Linked DNA regions of Homo sapiens. Changing the gene in region 4 together with the main gene of any one other region gives a genetic interaction. Each region holds a gene or a part of one and is shown on either strand. Other genes may lie near its edges. The genes, in order: HAPSTR1, RTF1, GEMIN5 and SETD1B.

What was found.
Region 1: changes in SETD1B (region 4) and HAPSTR1 together harm fitness more than expected from each alone (negative genetic interaction), as found in Homo sapiens cells (one large-scale study listed by BioGRID).
Region 2: changes in SETD1B (region 4) and RTF1 together harm fitness more than expected from each alone (negative genetic interaction), as found in Homo sapiens cells (one large-scale study listed by BioGRID).
Region 3: changes in SETD1B (region 4) and GEMIN5 together harm fitness more than expected from each alone (negative genetic interaction), as found in Homo sapiens cells (one large-scale study listed by BioGRID).

What each region holds. Positions count from the first base shown.
Region 1 is NC_000016.10:9,114,429-9,119,546, reverse strand, and holds part of HAPSTR1 (HUWE1-associated protein modifying stress responses 1), read right to left. Parts: intron 2,880-5,118; coding exon 2,635-2,879; 3' UTR 1-2,634. UniProt on the Homo sapiens protein: Acts as a central player within a network of stress response pathways promoting cellular adaptability. The E3 ligase HUWE1 assists HAPSTR1 in controlling stress signaling and in turn, HUWE1 feeds back to promote the degradation of HAPSTR1.
Region 2 is NC_000015.10:41,464,626-41,469,997, reverse strand, and holds part of RTF1 (RNA polymerase-associated protein RTF1 homolog), read right to left. Parts: intron 5,228-5,372; coding exon 5,113-5,227; intron 3,858-5,112; coding exon 3,746-3,857; intron 1-3,745. UniProt on the Homo sapiens protein: Component of the PAF1 complex (PAF1C) which has multiple functions during transcription by RNA polymerase II and is implicated in regulation of development and maintenance of embryonic stem cell pluripotency.
Region 3 is NC_000005.10:154,899,419-154,904,790, reverse strand, and holds part of GEMIN5 (gem-associated protein 5), read left to right. Parts: intron 1-161; coding exon 162-284; intron 285-1,615; coding exon 1,616-1,711; intron 1,712-2,114; coding exon 2,115-2,252; intron 2,253-3,304; coding exon 3,305-3,452; intron 3,453-5,372. UniProt on the Homo sapiens protein: The SMN complex catalyzes the assembly of small nuclear ribonucleoproteins (snRNPs), the building blocks of the spliceosome, and thereby plays an important role in the splicing of cellular pre-mRNAs.
Region 4 is NC_000012.12:121,830,583-121,835,028, reverse strand, and holds the end of SETD1B (histone-lysine N-methyltransferase SETD1B), read right to left. Parts: 3' UTR 2,373-4,446; downstream 1-2,372. UniProt on the Homo sapiens protein: Histone methyltransferase that catalyzes methyl group transfer from S-adenosyl-L-methionine to the epsilon-amino group of 'Lys-4' of histone H3 (H3K4) via a non-processive mechanism.

The DNA.
Region 1 (5,118 bases), on a different chromosome or scaffold from region 4:
TCAGCCATGCTCAGAACGCTGCAGTCTAAGGATGAACTTCAACTTGCCCATGCCAAGTTAGGGCGACAGGAGCAGAACTAAGGAGCTATGACGTCTAAAAGAATCAGAGAATCTGGCTTAAGACGAAGAGAGCTTCTGTTCCCCAAAACTAAACTGTCTAGTTTTTAAATCCACCCTTAACCGTTCAAGAAACTGAAAAAGTCAACTTGTTTTTAAAATACCACACAGGTATGCAATCTTCCATGATTTGTTTTGCATCTCAGCTAGCACAGGGAAACCCTTGAAAAACCTAGCTGTCAGAAGTTTTTCCTGAGGGAAATCATTACGCTTCTACTGCTGAGCTTCATGTTTATTCTGTGCGTCGGGGAAAGGAGAAAGCAATGGGACAGAGAAGGGAAAAGTTGCGACTGGGTGACAAATTCATTAGGTGCATTTGAAAGTAAACGCAATGGAAAAAAGTAACAAATGCTAAAGTTTTCTAAAAGTTTAATGAAGCCAATAAGGCATATAAATTGTGTTCTGGCAGACATTAAGACCTGCTTTCTCTTACCAAAGAAAATGGCACGTTTTATCAAAATTTGACAATTCAGAGTAAAGGGTACTGAGATTAAGCTTCAGAGCACCAACTTAAACAAAACAACCAAAAAATTGTTATCCAACGTGGAAAGAGGAGCAAGAACCAAGGCATAAAGGGGAATTAAATATGTGTTCCTCCATCTCAAAATCCTTTTAGGAATAGGAGTTCTGGCCACTTGTGAGCAACACATTGCACCACCAAACCCCAATTCCAGAATCTAAATTTACGATAGAAAAACAAAGGTAACTCCAAACGCATGTCTTGTATATTCCAAAGGGAAGCTTGAAAGTATTCATAATACATAGGCTTGTCTGTTTCAGGTAAAATGACAGATTGCTATAATTCTTCCTGCTATTATAGTCAAACAAAAAATGACCCACTTTCGCAAAAGTTTAGAAATCTCTCACTTTCATTCCTAGTTTTAGTATGGAATTCACTTTTTTAAATAAGGGCTACATCTATAATGAATACAGAACTTCAATTCACACAACATTTCTAACATTCCATTCACATCCCACCCAGTCAATGAATGAACATTTATGGTTAACTCAGCAAAGTTTCTTCACAGAAAGATATTATTAAATGGCTGAAGAAATTGCAAACTTTAACAAAGTGCTGTGAGTAATTACTGGAAAAACCCTTACACTGATTTGCAATGGTCTTTTAAGGATAAAAATAGGAAGTAACTGATACTGGACTACAAGTTTGCAAGGAAACATTTTTCACTGTCCTACTTGATATATAATATAATAATATGATAGAATAAATTACAGTACCTGGCAGGCTGACATCAGTTCTTCATCTAAAAAAACACTATCATTCAGTTCAGGATATTAAAAATGAAGATGAAACATGCTCTAAAACATTGTAGCTACAAGAGGTCTTATATTTACTCAAAAGAGGAATCTATTGAGAACTTTTTATTTAGGTCTACCTAACAGCTAGAGAATCTCCATGCGATTCCATCTTTTCCAGAATGAGATTCCAAACTGAACTTTTTAGGAGAGGGATTGGAGGGACAGGGAGAGTTGGGTTTTGCTATTTTAAGTTGCAATCACATTATTAGTAGATAAAAAAGAGAGCTTTATCATCTTCCACCCATTCCAATGGAAACTGCACTAAGCAGGGACTCCATGAAAAATGTAAAATGATAGACTAGAAAACCTACCCCACCATCCATCTCCCTCTCCCTCTCACTAATACTGAACCAAAAAGGAAGCCCATTCTCAAAGTTCATGACCTCTCTACTTTAGGTCACCTCGAATGCAGTCTACATGTTTACATTTACCATAAGGAAAGTACCCCGCATGGGAAGTAGTGTTTGTCTTAAAACTGAGTACTTTAGGCCTACAGGGTTACTCTGGGGACAGTTTAATAATAATACTGCTACTTTAGAGCACTAACACACACAAAGTGAATCCAATAAAGCTCTGGGCATTGATTCAATATTTAGTATTAATTGCATGACCATCATAGCACCTCTTTACATCACACAATCACCAGAATTAGAAATTGATTTGAAAACTAAAAACAGGGCACAGTCCAATAATTAGAATTGCACACTGTTACTATATAGAAACCAGGTGCATGGTACAGTGCAGCTGCAAAAATGGAAGCCAAATCATGTTTTTAGACAATTTTAGGAACCTGGCAATACTGTTGAAGCAAAATACTCAACACAGCAGGAAATGGACCCAAAAAAAAAAAAAGCATTCTATAACCAAATAAACATCTGATATTTCCTTTCCCTTTGAGAATAAATACAGTTAAGGTCACTTTTAGCCTTGGAACGGATATATGTTTGCCTATGATGATCTTGCTAACGACTACACAATATCTGATGTCCTCTGCTAGGATTATAGTTTTAAGAAAGCCATAATTACAAGAGGCATCTACTATAAATACCTAGAACTTCCTTTTATGGCAACCACTATAGAATTCACTTGTCTTAAACAGTGAACAAGGGAAGATGGCCTCATGTTTCCTTTGCAATTATAGTATATGTTGAGGATCAAGTGGCTTTCAAGCAGCATGGTGGGTGTGAAAATGTTTGCAGTTTAGATCATTCTGTTGCGTTTATGGGTTGGTGAGTCTGTAATGACATCGCCACACTGGGCTGAGGTACGCTTTCTAGTTCCACCATTGTCCAAGTGGAGTGCCATTTCTTCTGATATGAAAGTGTTCAAATCGACATCATGGAGTCCATTTCTCCTTCGACTAGCATTCGATCCACTGCTTACATGTGTAGGAGAGCCTGGGGTACTCGAACGCACGCTTATACTAGCCATTGCACCACTAAGACCTAGGAAGAAGAAAAAAGGTTTTAGAGTTGCTCAATTATGTAACCCTTTTGAAAGCAACCCACTTACTTTCCATGTTGTCACAATGTCAAAGCATGTCTGCCTATTTCCTTTATAAGGGATTACTAGTAAGCAATTAAGTTTTATTCTGGATAAACATATCATCTGGCCTTGACATATATTTTATTGGTAATACTACCAATATCTACAATATTGGTAACTACCAATTACTAAAAGTTACTACGTGTCAACCACCGTGCTAGGTGTACAAATATCTCATTAAATTCTCCCATCTATGAGGTAGGTACTGCACAAAATTTACAGATAAGGACAGGAGACATTTGCTTTAAAGACAAGACATTTTTGGTTACCCAAAGTTACCATTCCAACAGACCCCTCTGATGAGTGTGTATGTGTGTGATGTATTCAGGAGAGCCAGAAATCACTTCCAGGCCTAGGTGGGCTTGTTCCAACATCCCCTCTAGATAAGGTGATCACATAACTTGCCATCCAAAACAGATTACTGTTGAGCCCGAAAAGAGTCACTGTTAAAATTTCTACTGGGACATGAGGTACAAAGTCAGTCTACCCTGGACAAATCAGGCTATGTGATCACCTAAGGTCTGGAATGTATTTGGTAGATATCCTTCAGGACAGCCTCAATCATGAGCCTCTCTAATCCTTCATGGAAGTGGGGAGGGGAGAGGGTTGTGAAGAATCCTGCTGCTTTGTTTTCAACATTAAGAGTTACTGAATCCAAGGCCAGGCGCAGTGGCTCACACCTGTAATCCCAGCACTTTGGGAGGCCGGGCAGATCTCTTCAGGTCAGGAGTTCATGACCAGCCTGGCCAACATGGTGAAAACTCGTCTCTACTAAAAAATACAAAAATTAGCCCGGCGTGGTGGCAGGCGCCTGTAATCCCAGCTACTCGGGAGGCTAAGGAGGAGAATCGCTTGAACCCGGGAGGCGGTGGTTGCAAAGAACCGAGACTGCACTCCATCCTGGGTGACAAGAGCGAAACTCCGTCTCAAAAACAAAAGAGTTACTTTACTGAATCCAGAATATACCCAGCACTCATGGATACTTATTCCTTTCCTTAAACTCTTACACAGTTAAAGAGCCAAACTTACATTCCACTCCTAAACATTCAGGATAAACCTGTGAAAGGTATGAGTCAGGCCAGGAAACACCAAACACAGTGTTGCATTTTTAAAAACCTACCGTCACTGGCAGTGATCTTCTGCCTTAGGAATTTCCCCTTCCACTATTCTCTCCTCACCTAGGGATCTGTTATTGCTTGACTATCAATTAATTTTCAAAGAATAGGACTTATAAGATTTTCAAGTAAGCTTAGAGGTTTCATTTGACAGGGGCCCATTCTTTCTAATCATGAACTCCCTAAAAATGTAGTTTAAATTTGAATTTTAAGTTGAAAAGTCTCTGCCTCCTATCACAAATCTATTACATTCCCCTTGGCGTTCCCCTCCATCAAATATTCTCTGAAATGTTCTCAAATCCATGGCCTCCACTATCATCGCACATGCTGACAATGTCCTGAGGGCCACACCTCCCTTCTGAGGTGCTCAACTCCGCACTCTAGGTGCCCCCATTCCTTTCTGCACTGATCCAACCAATCCCCCTGGCTGCTCTCCCTGCAGAAGACACATCCTCCCCTCCTGCTGGTGGTCAGAGGAAATCAAACTGTCCCTCTTCAGCCTCTCAACCTTTCCAAGGCTAGCACCTATTAAAAAATAGAAGCATTAACATGAGAATACTTCCTGTGTCAGGTACTATGTCAATTACTTCCTATGACACCTATAATATCTCCATTCTGCAGGTGAAAACCCAAGTTTAAAAGTTAATTCATCCAAGGTCAACAGGTAGTAAACAAGAGCTGGCACTCCCACCCAAGTGTAATCTATATTCCTATTCAGTTATTCTGATCCTCTTCCAAGCCTAGAGTATTTTAGCAAAAAGGTGGCTTCAGGTTGGTCCTAGGGCCAGCCTGCCTCTTAGGCCTCATCTCTTTGAACAGTTTCTCTCTCTTCCCTTCCTGCTCTCTTCACTTCACCCTTAGACCGTATCCCGACTACCAACATCATGCAATTTGCAGCTCTCTGAAATAGTGAGGCCTGCAACTATCTGTCTCTTCCAACATTTGCAAATGTCTGTCTCTCCCAACATTCACTCCCTGAGTGAGCCCACCTGTTCCCCAGCACCTCCCTTATGAGGCTCCTTCC
Region 2 (5,372 bases), on a different chromosome or scaffold from region 4:
CTGACAGTTCTCTTTTATGGCACTCAAGACACTTGACTATGGGGAGGAAAGAGGGGGAAAGACTCATGATGACTTCAGAAGCTTCTGAGGAAAATTTAAAATAGGAGAGTGGCTAAATCACCACTGGTACATCTACCAATGAACTACTATGCAGCTATAAAAAAGGAACGTGGGGACGGGTGCGGTGGCTTACGCCTGTAATCTCAGCACTTTGGGAGGCAGAGGCAGGTGGATCACTTGAGGTCAGGAGTTCGAGACCAGCTTGGTCAACATGGTGAAACTCTGTCTCTACTAAAATACAAAAATTAGCCAGGCATTGTGGCCGGCACCTGTTATCCCAGCTACTTGGGAGGCTGAGGCAGGAGAATCGCTTGAACCCGGGAGGCGGAGGTTGCAGTGAGCCAAGACTGTATACCACTGCACTCCAGCCTGGGCAACAGAGCGAGACTCCATCTCAAAAAAAAAAAAAGGAACGTGGCCAGGCATGGTGACTCATGCCTGTAATCCCAGCACTTTGGGAGGTCGAGGTGGGTAGATCACTTGAGCTCAGGGGTTTGGGACCAGCCTGGGCAACATGGTGAATCTGCATCTCTACCAAAAATACAAAAAACAAACCAGGAGTGGTGGCTAAAAAAAAAAGAGAGAGAAAACTGTGTATAATATGCTACCATTAATCTAAGATGGCAGGTTAATCTGTGTACTTACGATTTAAAAAGAAAAAAGAATAATATAAAAAAATTTTAGGCTGGGAGTGTTGGCTCATGCACTTTGGGAGGCCAAGGCAAGGCGGATCACTTAAGGTCAGGAGTTCAAGACCACCCTGGCCAACATGGCTAAACCCCATCTCTACTAAAAATACAAAACAAAATTAGGTGGTGGTGCACGCATGTAGTCTCAGCTACTCAAGAGGCTGAGGTGGGAGAATCGCTTGAACCCGGGAGGTGAAGGTTGCAATGAGCCGAGATCGCGCCACTGCACTCCAGACTGAGTAACAGAGAGAGATCCTGTCTCAAAAAAGAGAGAGAGAAAAAGATGGATGGAAGGAAGGAAAAATAACTGCAATGGATTAAAACACATAAAGCACGTTAAAAATGATGAGTTCACAAGGATATTCAAAATAAATAAAACCCATCAGTCATCTTTGGAAGTTGCTAAAAACTATCTCTCTCTCTCTCTTTAAAATATTGCAGAAACAGGGTCTCACTATGTTGCCCAGGCTGGTCTTGAATTACACATGTGAGCCACTGTACCTTGCCAGGAACTATCTCATTCTTTCAAAAACTGGTAAACGAAAGGAAAATTAATCAAGCATTTATCTTGCCTTTCCTGTTCAAAATGTGCCTGGGGGGTAACTAAATAGCTGATTAGAAGTTTCTCTTTAGGCCGGGTGCGGTGGCTCACACCTGTAATCCCAGCACTTTGGGAGGCCGAGGCGGGCGGATCACAAGGTCAGGAGATCAAGACCATCCTGGCTAACATGGTGAAACCCCTTCTCTACTAAAAATACAAAAAATTAGCTGGGCGTGGTGGCAGGTGCCTGTAGTCCCAGCTACTCAGGAGGCTGAGGCAGGAGAATGGTGTGAACCCAGGAGGCGGAGCTTGCAGTGAGCCGAGATCGCGCCACTGCACTCCAACCTGGGCGACAGAGCGAGACTCCGTCTCAAAAAAAAAAGGTTTCTCTTTATAGAAGCAGGCTAGATAATGAATGAGGAAAGAATGACAGATTCGAAATATCACCATTTTGCAACTCCTAATGAATTAAATTATCTAGGTAATGACCATCAGTGGCTACTAGGACAGAACACGTTATTATTTCTTTTTCTTTTTTTTTGAGACAGAGTCTCACTCTTGTTGCCCAGGCTGGAGTGCAATGGTAGGATCTTGGCTCACTGCAACCTCCACCTCCCGGGTTCAAGTGATTTTCAGTGCCTCAGCCCCACAAGTAGCTGGGATTACAGGCATGTGCTACCACGCCTGACTAATTTTTGTACTTTTAGTAGAGACGGGATTTCACTCTGTTGGCCAGGCTGGTCTCCAACTCCAGACCTCACGTGATCTGCCTGCTCTGACCTCACAAAGTGCTGGGATTACAGGTGTGAGCCACCGTGCCTGGCCTGGCTAATTTTATTATTTTTAGTAGAGATGGGCTTGCACCATGTTGGCCAGGCCGGTCTTGAACTCCTGGCCTCAAGCAATCCTCCAGCCTCAGCCTCCCGAAGTGCTGGGATTACAAGCGTGAGCCACTACACTCAGCCCCACATTATCTTTTGTTGTTTTTTTTTTAAGATTGAGTCTCACTCTGTTGTCCAGGCTGGAGCGCAGTGGCGGAATCTCAGCTCACTGCAACCTCCGTCTCCCGGGTTCAAGGGATTCTCCTGCCTCAGCCTCCTGAGGAGCTGGGATTACAGGCATGCACAACCATGGCCAGCTAATTTTTGTATTTTTTGTAGAGATGGGGTTTCACCATGTTTGCCAGGCTGGTCTCAAGCTCCTGACCTCAGGTGATCCGCCCACCTTGGCCTCCCAAAGTGCTAGGATTACAATTGTGAGGCACCACGACCGGCCCCCACAGTATCCTTTCTAATTCTTCACCCATCTCTATACCCATGTCCTTTGCTATATGCCTTAGTCATTCTTCCCGGCCCCATAGTGACACTATGCCAATTCCAAGTCTAGGCCCTAAGAGGCATGTGTGTCTTTGCTTGCCCCTTTTATACTTCTGTCATCACCATATAAAAGTGCTCGGGGTTTACTGGCCCAGGGAGGAAGAGAGAGGTAGAACAGACCTGGCTACCACCTATAGCTTGGAGATAATTCCAGCTGAACTCATGCCATCAGGAGGGTGAATTGCAGTTGAACTTCAGATGCATGAGCAGAACAGGGGTTAGTTTGTTACTTCACATTATTGTGGTAAGAGCTAACTGACAGGATTGTTAACATCACAAACTGAGAGACAGTCAGATATCATGTGTCTCCTGATGGAAATACATACCACTACCTAAAAATCAGCCTTCCCCAAGAACAAGCAACAATGACAACAACAGAACAAACCCAAATCTGACCAATTCTGTAGCTCTAACTAACCATTTACAGGAAACCCAAGGGACCAGAAACACATTCAACAACAAAAACGAGATGTAGTCAGCAATGTGAGAAACCAGAAGACAAATGACCCAGTTCCTTCAGCAAATAACGCTGCAAGGCAGGGCAAAGAGATGGGGAAGAAAACATACAGATTAAATGCCTTAAGGGACGTATTAACAGATCACAATGTATGGACTTTAAGATCCTGATTCAAGTGGTCTTGTTTTTTAAATTACAAAACAAATAGAAATGTTTTTAAAATCTTGTTTTTTAAATTACAAAACAAATAGAAAAATTTGAACACTGACTAGATATTTGACAAAGAGTTCATTGTTATTTCTAGGTGTAATAATGGTATTATAGTTAGGTTTAAAACAAAAGTACTTATCTTTTAGAGGAACATACTGAAATATTTATGGTTAAAATATAATAATGCTGGTATTTGCTTTAAAATAATCTGATGAAAGGATTATAGATTTAACAAGACTGGCCAAGAGCTGACTGCTGTGGCTGGATGATGGGTTTGTGGATGTTTATACTATTCTGGGTATGTGCTGGAATTTTATATGAGAAAGATATAACAAGAGGGCAAAATGAAAATGGACACCAGGAAGTCAAATCATATAAAGACACAAGTAGCCATTATATTTCCCTCGCTTACCTGTTCTGTTCTTTCGTTTTTCTCGCTCTGCTTTTAGCTCCTCCATGGCTTGAGATTTCTTGTCTAGTTTCTCATCCCGCTTGGAACGCCGTTCCTTGTTGTGGGATGTTACCTAGGAAGGGAAGGATATATAGAATGGCCCTTTTTACCAACAGCTGATAAGATTCTCTAAACCTACTTAATGCATTTAGTCCTCCAACATCAATCTATATGGGCTGCAAAAACTTAGAGCTTTTATGTAAGGGGAGAGAGCATCCTCTTGTGGACAAAGAGGATAGCGCAGTAAAGTAAGCCCTGTCTAAAATGCCTATTCCAAGTTCAAGAATTATCCGAATAAACTCTTTCTGGAAGAACACACTACAACACAGCTAATGTTGGGATTACAGGCATAAGCCACTACACTCAGCCCCACATTATCTTTTTTTGTTGTTTTTCTGAGATGGAGTCTCATTTATGATAAATACAGAGATTATTTTCCCAGCTATATTTATACCAAGTAAAGGATGATATACATCTAAGTAAACATCATAAGCATCTGGCTACCTAGGACAGGTTGTTTACCAACTTTTCCTTAAGGGATGGTCACTCACTAGTGGGCTGCTTTTTTTTTTTAAAACAGAGCCTCGCTCTTCTGCCCAGGCTGGAGGGCCATGGCATGATCTCAGCTCACTGCAACCTCCGCTTCTGAGGTTCAAGCAATTCTTGTGCCTCAGCCCCCCGAGTAGCTGGGATTAAAGGCATAAGCCACCACGCCAGGCTAATTTTTGTATTTTTAGTAGAGACAGGATTTCGCCACGTTGGCCAGGCTGGTCTCAAACTCCTGGCCTTGAGTGATCTGTCTGCCTCGGCCTCTCAAAGTGCTGGGATTACACATGTGAGTCACTGCAGTTGAGGGCTGCTTTTTAAATGCAGACTTCAGTGAAAGCCGGGCACGGTAGCATATGCCTGTAGTCTCAGCAACTCAGGAGGACTGCTTGAGACTAGGAGTTTGAGGCTTCAGTGTGTTATGACTGTGCCAGTGAATAGCCACTGTATTCTAGCCCGGGCAACATAATGAGACCAGGGAAAGGGAAGAGGAAGGGAAGGAGGAAGGGAAGGGGGAAGGAGGAAGGGAGGGGAAGAAAAGGGAAAAAGAAAGAAGAAAGAAAAAAGAAAAGGAAAAAGGAAAGCAAAGGAAAAAGTGCTAAGGATTTAACAGCACAGCTAATGGTGATATGTCCAGAGATTAATGAAACCATGTCACAAGTCTTATAAACTTAGGCTGATTAATATAAATCCACCTTTTACACACACACACACACACACACACACACACACACTCAAAACAGGTTTATTCTTTGGACAATGAGGAACACTGAATCTCCTACCTGAGATTCTTGAATCTGTGTCAGTTTTTTCTTTTCTTGCTCCTCTTCTTGCTTTTTCTTCTTTTCTTTCTTTTCTTTCTTTTTGGCTGTTTTTAGTTTTTTCTTGATTTCAAATCTGGTTAAAAGATATTTGGTTTTTAAGTAGCAATGAAATGTATATAAAAACTGATTTCTATTAGATAGGAGAAAGGAACTAAGGGAAAGGAGCTAATAGATATTTTGGCTTTCCTGCAAGAAACTCTGGTGTACCTTTTAAGTAC
Region 3 (5,372 bases), on a different chromosome or scaffold from region 4:
TGCCCCCAGCAAATTTATTTTGAAAGCCTCTTTATTAGGAGGAGGAGCTTTCTCTGCCTGTGGTGTCGTCCTGCCAGTAGGTTACATTCACACAATAGGCATTCCGTTTTATGTTTCTGATCAGTTCTCCTTCAGATAGTATGTACTTTATTAAATTTCAGAAACCTTAATCAAGAAGAGAAAAGCTCGTTCCTTGCTTCCCCTGAGTACAAGCCTGGACCACAGATCCAAAGAGGAGCTTCATCAGGACTGTTTGGTACTAGCAACTGCAAAGCACTCCAGAGGTACAAAAATGTACTTCCTTGGCCCATCCATAGTCTTCCGGGACTGGTATATAAGGGATGTTTACTTATTTATTAAATGAATGCCCAAAGAAATGTCTAAATTGTTTTCTGTATTTTTATGTTCTCCAGCTCTCCCTTCCCTCCACATCCCTATACCCCTACACCTTGCTGCCAAACTCCCCATTGTGACCCACCGTCAGCACTGCCATGGCTTTGAAATGTAGCGCTCTGCTTTTATTCTAAATCTAATTCCTCCCAGCCATCTGTGTGCCAGAATTGGTATGTTGGCCTAAGTATCTCAGCATGAATAAACTCCTTCAACTCTTTTCCCCATTGAACAGTATCCTATGGAGAAAAAAATCTTTTTTTCTTATTGGAAATATGCTCATAATATGGCATTTTTTTAGAAAAAAATTTGATGGAAGCTTTTGCTTTGTAAGTTTTGTTTTGAAGGGTTGTTTTATTTTTGTTTTTCAAAGTCTTCATTTAATGTCCACTATTTTGATATTTTAATAACTTTATTTTTTAAATTTGAAGTTTACATGTGGAAAAGGGATGCACATAATAAATAAAATTGATGCTTAAGGGGCTGAAGCAGAAGGATCACTTGAGCTCACTTTAAGGCCAGCCTGGGCAACATAGTGAGACCCTCTCTCTATTTAAAAAAAAAAATTTTTTTTTAATTTTTTTTTCAAAGTAAATCTTCCTCCCAGTCCTCTGTTTCTCCTCCCCAGGAATGGAGGACCATCCTCCCTCCCGGTTACTGTCTCCCACTACCCTAACAAGGGTAGTCACTATCCTGGGCTTCCATTTGTTTCTTTCTTTTGAATTTTTGAACTGTTTTGTCTGTATTGCATAATCAAACTATTATCAGTTTCTTGTGTCTTGATGGAGATGTTTTATGCTTTTATTATATACATAGCCTTTTTGGAGCTTTGTGATGACTTCCTATAACTTACATAGTTAACCTAGTTTCACATTATTTTCCTTACTGGAAAATTACTCAGTTGACTTTTTTTTTGAAGCAAAGGATGAATATTGAATCCCCTTGTGGTAAGTCCCAGTGAATATTAAGGACTTTCTTTTGCTTATTAATATTGTTTTGCTTGTTTTTTACTGCACTTAAATATGTTCTGATTTGGGGTTCACTTTTAACATTTTAAGTGTTTTTGTGTTTTGCTCCCTTTGTAACTGCAGGAGTCTCTGTTAGAGCTCTGATTCTCTCAGTGTCTGAAGTGGGTGTTCCAAACATATATTCGGAAGTTATTGGAGAGAAAACTGTAATCAATGTAATGACTTCATCTGATTTTTTTGCCTTTTTAAATTAACAGAGCTGAATGAAGATGTGTCTGCTGATGTTGAGGAAAGATTTCATCTGGGGCTTTTCACAGACAGGGCTACCCTGTATAGAATGATTGATATTGAAGGTGAGACAAATCCAGTCAACATAATCTCATCCATCTTTATACTTTCCCAACATTTTGTGTGCACCTCTTTGATGGCTGTCATCCTGTGATATTATAATGGTTAGTTTTACGTGTCAGCTAACTAGGTTTTGAGCTCCCTGATTTACATATTGATACAACCCTTGCATCATCATAGGATCCTAAACATACAGCATTCACTCTGAGTACATGTGAAGGTGTGGGAGTGTACAGTGACCAAGTGGGCTTCAGATCTTACTGTAATCACTCTGGTAGGTGACACCCATCAGAGAATGACTGCATATTTTAGGAGCTCACTTTCTCTTCTATCTTGCCTTTCTTTTCCTACAAGTCAGTAACAGATGTTTCTGAAACACCTTCCAAACATTATCTCTCTTTCAAACAGGAAAAGGTCACTTAGAAAATGGCCACCCTGAGTTATTTCACCAGCTTATGCTTTGGAAAGGAGATCTCAAAGGTGTTCTCCAGACTGCAGCAGAAAGAGGGGAGCTGACAGACAACCTTGTGGCTATGGCACCAGCAGGTATGGTTTTTGTTTGTTTGTTCTTTTCAACAAAAGCTCTATCATCTCTAGGATACGTCCACTAAAGATGGCTCTTAGCACAGTCTTAAGCTTGAAATCACTTACAAATAGATACAAAGCAATAGACAGCAATAGACAAACTAATAAATCCAACCCAACCCCTTTGAAAAAAAGCAGGTCACTGACACTTTAATTGGCAAAAGCATAATTGGTGAGAACTTCTTGAAGGACAATTTGGCCATGTCTAGTAAATTTTAAAAGATATAATGGCACAAGTCTGTAGTCCCCAGCTGCTCAGGAGGCTGAGGCAGGAGGATTGCTTAAGGCTAGGCGTTCAGACCTATAGCGCTCTGTTAATTGTGCCTGTGAATAGCCAGTGTATTCTAGTCTGGGCAACATCATGAGACCTTGTCTCTTTAAAAAAAAAAAAGGCTGGGTGTGGTGATTCCTGATTCATGCCTGTAATACCAGCATTTCGGGAGGCCGAGGTGGGCAGGTCACTTGATCCCAGGAGTTTGAGACCAGCCTAGGCAACATGGCAAAAGCCCATCTCTACAAAAAAATTAAAAAATTATCTGGGCATGGTGACATGTACCTGTAGTCCCCGCTACTCGGGAGGCTGTGGTGGGAGGATCACCTGAGCCCGGGGAGGTTAAGGCTGCAGTGAGCCATTATTGTGCTACTGCGCTCCAGCCTGAGCCACAGAGTGAGACCCTGTCTCAAAAAACAATAAAAGGAAAGGGAAAAAAAAAAAGCACGTAGTCATGTTACCTTTGGCTCATCAGTTATGATTATAGGAATTTAACTGTGCTCACACATTCCTTTCTGTATCTTTTCAACTTTGTACTGTTTTGTTTGTGTTACATAATCAAACAATTGATGCTTCAGAATGTGTAGATGAAGCAGATGATCCATAATGGCAGCTGAATTGGTATCTAAATGTTCTGCTGAATGCATTGACGAAAACAAGGCTTTTTCAACCCAAATGTACTGGGTATTGTTTTTACTTTTTCTTCAACTGTTTTTTTAACCACCATCTTTTATTTTTTCAGCTGGCTACCATGTGTGGCTATGGGCTGTGGAAGCTTTTGCCAAACAGCTGTGTTTTCAGGATCAGTATGTCAAGGCTGCTTCTCACCTACTTTCCATCCACAAAGTGTATGAAGCGGTGGAGCTGCTCAAGTCAAACCATTTTTACAGGTCTGTGTGGTCCTAGAGTTGGGATAATACTTGGACATAATGTGAAAATAACCTAAACTTCTCTATTGTTAAAGTAACATAAATAGAAGAAACAGTCCTCCTGCTTCAGCCCCCTGAGTAACTGGGACTACTCAGGAGGTGCATGCCACCACATCCAACTAATTTTTTAGTTTTTTGTAGAGACGGAGTCTTGCTGTGTTGTCCAAGCTGATTGCCAACTCCTGGGCTCAAGCGATCCTCGTGCCTCAGCCTCCCAAAGTGCTGGGATTACAGGCATGAGCCACCATGCTTGGCCAAGATTTTCTTTTTGTTCTACCCTGCTTTGGTTTTGTTATCTTCCTTTAGAGAGTGTTAAACTTTGTTTTGGTAAGTAGTAAAGTTGTGTATCAGCTTGATCTTTTCATGGCTTGTTTTTAAACTTCGTTAGGGCAAGTTTATCATATTCTAGAATTACCTCCTACATTTTGATATCTTTCTTGAATGCCTTATGCATTCAACAAATCAAAACTCAGATGTCTCCAAGTCCTGAGTAAGCTCTGGGAATTGTTCAGCTTACAGTTACCTAGTCATTCTTTGTTTAGACTTAAGGAGTTTCCTTTACATACGTGGCTTTTAATTTAGCCAAAGACTCAATGGGATCTCCAGGCAGAGTTGTGGATGTCTTTCTCTGGACAGCTTCCTCCTTCCTAGTATCCTGCCCCTCAGATTTCCATTGTTTCCTCTTCTCAACTCAGAGACTGCTGAGGTTTTGCTCAGGTTTTCCTTAGGAAAATGGCTTTGGGCAGAAAGCCAGTGCCAAGATAGGGCTCCCATCATTTGTTTCTGTTCTCTTAGGGCTGACCATCCTATGCTGCCTGTTACCTGGTATCTAAAAACAGTTGTTTCAGCCATTTTGTCCAGTTTTTTAGTTTTATGGCAGAAAGGTAAGTCTGGTCCCAGTTACTCCATCATGGCTGGAAGTAGAAGTCCCAAAATACTTTCAAAATATTGCTCTCTCTAGATCACTTTAATCTAATAAAACACTTTTTTCCCAGCTACAACTTTATGTTGGCTACAACTCAGCAGTTGTATGTCATTTGAAAAATATTTGTTTACTGAGTTGTTCAGATCTTCCAAATGTTAACATATCTTATTATAAAATACCCAAAAATACCACATTCCTTACTATCACCATCAGTCTCATCAGAAAATTCTAACTTATGGGAAACTCAGGCACACAAGTGGTAGGTACAAGTTTTCTAAAATTCTAATTTTTGCTAGAAAACTCGCATTTTATCATTAGTAACAAATACTGTTGGTTGTTTTTAATGAAGTGATAGGCCTACTTTGTTCATTTTTGAGAAAAACATCTGCCAAATACCCAACACTGAATAACTGTTATTTATGTTAGTCATTTTTTTTTTTTTTAGAAGAAAGAAGGTTCTATGAAAAAGCAGCCAGTTTAGCTTGTAATTTGTTCATACAGGTGTTACCTAGAGACAACCATTCTACTTTGGAATGCAGCAGAGAACACAAAATGTTCTTCCCATTTGTCACACAGAATATTAAAGTGTTTTGGACTTGACGGATTTAGTAAAATTTGTAATTTTTACTGCTTCATTAAGGGCATTCTTCCTTTTTTTCCACTGTAAGAGCCACCGCCTTCCTTCTTAGATGCCAGGTTTCCCAATCACTGCTTTGGCACAATCAGTGCAAATGTCAACACATTTTTTTTTTTTTAATAAAAAAGCACATAACTGACTCTTAGCATTGTTACGAAAATAGTTTTAACCTCATGAACCCTCTGAAAGGTTCTTGAGGACCCCCTAGGAATCCACAGACCACAATTTAAGAACTGCTGATCTAAGTGAAGAAACGAATGCAGCATATGTTTCTAATTTGTCTATATAATGCAAGTGCAGTTTTTAAAGGAAGTTGGAA
Region 4 (4,446 bases):
AGAAAGAAAGAAAGAAAGAAAGAAAGAAAGAAAGAAAGAAAAGAAAGAAAGAAAAAGCCCTGGCGCGGTGGCTTACACCTATAATCCCAGCACTTTGGGAGGCCGAGGAGGGCACATCCCCTGAGGTCAGGAGTTCGAGACCAGCATGCTTAACATGGAGAAATCCCATCTCTACTAAAAATACAAAATTAGCTGGGCTTGGTGGCACATGCCTGTAATCCTAGTAATCCCTGTAATCCCTACTCAGGAAGCTGAGGCAGGAGAATTGCTTGAACTCGGCAGGTGGAGGTTGCAGTGAGCCGAGATTGTACCATTGCACTCTAGCCTGGGCAACAAGAGCAAAACTCTGTCTCAAGAAAAAAAAAAAGAAAAGAAATTTTTAAAATTAGCTGGTATGGTAAAGTGTGCCTATGGCCCTGATCAGCTTAGGAGGTTGAAGTGGGGGGATCATTGAGCTCAGCAGATCGAGGCTGCAGTGAGCTATGATCATGCCACTGCACTCCAGCCTGGGTGACAGAACTAGACCTTGTCTCTAAAATAAATAATAAAGGTAAAATTGTATATTCCTTCAGCTACACCCCCTTCTCTTAGCTTTATTCCTCCTTACTATTGCACTTACTTTTCACATTTGTCTGGCTCGCCCTCAAGAACAGTATGTTTCCTTCATTCCTATCCCCAGAGCCTAGAAGAGTACCTGGCACATACAAGGTGCTCAATAAATATTGGTTGATTGAATTAATGGCCAGACACTTCCTTCTCTTTCCTGGCTCAGCCCGGACCTCAGCCCTCTATTCCCATGAATCCACTTACGGGAGTGTCCACCTGTCTGGATGCACAATTCCTAAAAGCAGCCCACTGTGAACGGACAATTTACTCTCCCTTCGTTTCGTTGATACCAGAAATGAGGCTGCGAAGAACACTCTTCTTCATATTGTTGCCCACTGTATCTGTCAGGCTCAATTCCTCACAGTGGAACAACGGAGCCAAGACTTTTGTGTGCATTTGATCATTTTATTTTGAGACGAGGTCTCACTCTGTCGCCCAGGCTGGAGTGCAGTGGCATGATCTCGGCTCCCTGCAACCTCCACCTTCTGGGTTCAAGCGATTCTCCCACCTCAGCCTCCCAAGTATCTGGGATTACAGGCGTGCACCACCACACTCGGCTAATTTTTTTGTATTTTTAATAGAGATGGGGTTTTACCATGTTGGCTAGGCTAGCTCGAACTCCTGACCTCAGGTGATCTGCCCTCCTAGGCCTCCCAAAGTGCTGGGATCACAGGCGTGAGCCACCGTGCCGGCCGTGTGCATTTTAAATAATGATTACTAATAGGTATTTTTCCTCCTAAAGGTTGCAGTGATTTTTGGCTTCCCCTAATGACACACGAGAGTACCCCAGCCTCCTGCTCCCTCAAATTGGGTTTCCTCCACCTTTTAATATTTGCCAACCTGACAGGGGGAAACGGCATCCTGGGATAATTCACATTTCTCCAGTAGGAAGTGACGTACAGCGTCTTTTCAGGCATATTGCTTTTTGCTAAGGTTTTACGTCTTCTTGGAGACATTTACCGTGGACGCCAACTATAAGCCCTTTATCACCCGTCTACTGGGTCAAGCAGAGCTGAGACTGACTGGGGCACAGCATCTCTGAAATGCCATGAATACAGGATAGATTTAATTCTTCTCAACTTCTACTATTTTATCAGCCCTTTTTCCTCCCTCAAATGCAGACCAGGGGGGCATCTCCTTAAGTGTTAAACATTTCTGAGGAACCACCTACGTTCTTCTAGTGATAGTAAAAGGATACCTGATCTTATTTCCTTCATTGCAGACCTCATGAGTCAGAAACCTGAGGTTTTAAGAAAAAAATCTAGAAATCACACTTAAAAGCTGTGGAAGGTCTAGTGGTGACTATAATTTGGCCCATTTCACAAAACCCACCTACAAGTTCAGGCTGGGCACGGTGGCTCACATCTGTAATCCCACTACTTTGGGAGGCTGAGGTGGGAGGATTGCTTGAGCCCAGGAGTTTGAAACCAGCCTGGGCAACATAGGGAGACCCCGTCTCTACAGAAAAATTTCTTAAAAATTAGCTGGGCATGGTGGTGTGCTCCTGTAGTCCCAGCTACTCAGGAGGCTGAGGTGGGAGGATCACTTGAGCCCAGGAAGTCAAGGCTGCAGTGAGCCATGATTGCACCACTGCACTCCAGCCTGAGGTGACAGAGTGAGACCCTGTCTCAAAAACAAACAAAAAAACCCCTGCTGATCTGAGTGTCTGAGTGGACCACTCCACCCTCCACAGAAGCAGGATGTGCTCCCAACAGAAAGAAAGAATAAAGAGGAGAGGGAGAGAGGAGAGCAAGAGAGACGGCGTATCTGTAAGAAAAGTCAGTATATTTATGGTTTGCTTTATAAAAGTTACTATAATACAATGGTACATAGTATTGAATTCACAAAAATATGAACAAATATTTACATCAAGACACACAACGGAAACACTTCTCTTCAAAACAAGTTACATATGGATGATGGAGTCTACCCGCACAAACATCCCTAAAACTCATTGGTTCTCATCTTTGCAGGGGGAGGGAGAGAAAGCAAAAAATAGCAGAAACCCCCAACTCTTGAAAAGCAGAGATTTGTTCAATGAAAAATGAGGGAGTTGAAAGAAAAATGACTCGACACATATCTTGATTATTGCAAACCACTCTGGGGCTGGGGCTCCTGGGGAGAGGGAGGTCTAGTCCCCTTAGTGAAGGCCAGCCGAGGTTAACACTGGGCACGATGGCTGGGAGCAAGGTGAGGCCAGGGGGAGGGGTGAGGCAAGGGTCCCTTCCCTGGTCTTCTCGAACACCCCCACTTCTTTTATGGGAAGGGGACAGAATGGAGACAGCCCTTTGGAGGCTGTACATGTAACTTGAATCAGCCGTCTCTACAAGCTACGCATTTCCTCATGTGAAAAATAAATTATTTCCTCAGTTGCACAATTAGGCAGAAAACCGCAAACGGAAGAGAAGTTCGCCGCTGTGCCCAGGTACCCCATCTGTGTCTTGTTGCCACCAATTTCCTTGATCTTGAAACCGGCGGGCACAGTCTCAAATAGAGAGGGCCTGGGGGAAAGGAATAAAAAAAAAACAACAAAAAACACACAACAAAACCACCAACAACAAAAAAGAGAAAAATAACAATTCTTTGTACAGAATTTACATGATAACAAGCTTGACACAAGCTGAGATACCAGAGGCTCCGGCCGCCTGCGTCCGCAGGGTGGGAGCAGCTCCCTCATGGAGCGCGCTCATCTTGATGAGGACTCCGGGTCACAACAGTCACTTTCCAGAAATTATTTACACGCCTCCTCTGCTTTCTGGGGTACGGGGGGACTTGCTTTTGTCTTTTTTTTCCTTTTTTTTTGGAAGTACAAAGAAATGAGCAAAAAATGTCTTCCCGCATGTTTCTACAAGAAACAATGTTCCCAAGAGAAAGTCCTTTGCGGCAGCCTCTATATACAGAAGTTGGTTCTGAACTTCAAAAACCTTTTTCCCCTTCCTTTTGATTTTATACACGCACAAGAAAAAAAAAAGCCATGGGAATAAATTCTGAAGAGATGGGAAGGGGGTCAAAAGGGAAAAAAAAACCGTCAAGGCTTAGATTTGTGTTTTTAAATCTTTTCCAAGATTTTCCTTTCTCTGGGAGAAGTAATCTGCTCCCTCCGAAAATAAATATGCTCTGGCCTTCTTAGGTTGAGGGGCTGCCGGCAGGGGGATGTGGGGTGTGGGTTGGGGGTGAGTGGGTGAAGCTTATAAGCCAAAAAATGCCACACGCAGACGGTCTGACAACCCGTAATGGCGGGACTGGGGGACCCGCCTGCCCTTGGGAGCCCTGTCCCACCCAGGGCGAAGGCAAGGGCAGAAGAGAGTGGCTGCCCGCGTTCTCAGCGCCCCTCACCTGCACTGGGGCCTCCGAGAGGCTCCCGCGTTGCTGGCATCCGAATGAGAAAGTAAACATTGAACCCAAGGTTTAGGGGGTGCTGGGGTGTGAGGTGGCAGGGAAAGCCCAGAGCGGAGACCCCTGCCTGGGACAGCTTAGCTCCATCAGGGTCCACCGGGTCAGTGGTGCCCCAGGCCTCTGGGGAAGGAACAGGCTGCAGCTCGGGTGGGGAAAGGTGTGGGGTCTCCTCACTGTGCCCACGGGCAGTGAGGGGCGCTTTCAGGGCGTAGTGTTCTGAGGTCAAGGCCGTGGGGGCCTCCATCCTTCCCACAGCACCTGGCCCTGCGTCCAGGTCCGGGTGGCTTCCAGGACACGGGCCACGCACAGCCACACTGAGGCCTCTGCAGACCCCCGCGGGGCCCCTCTCTGATTCCACCTTCACATTTCAACGGTTAAATGTCTTTTCTCACAACGAGGAAAAAAATAGAGAAGACAAAACAACGTAGCAGCATTCACAGGAAG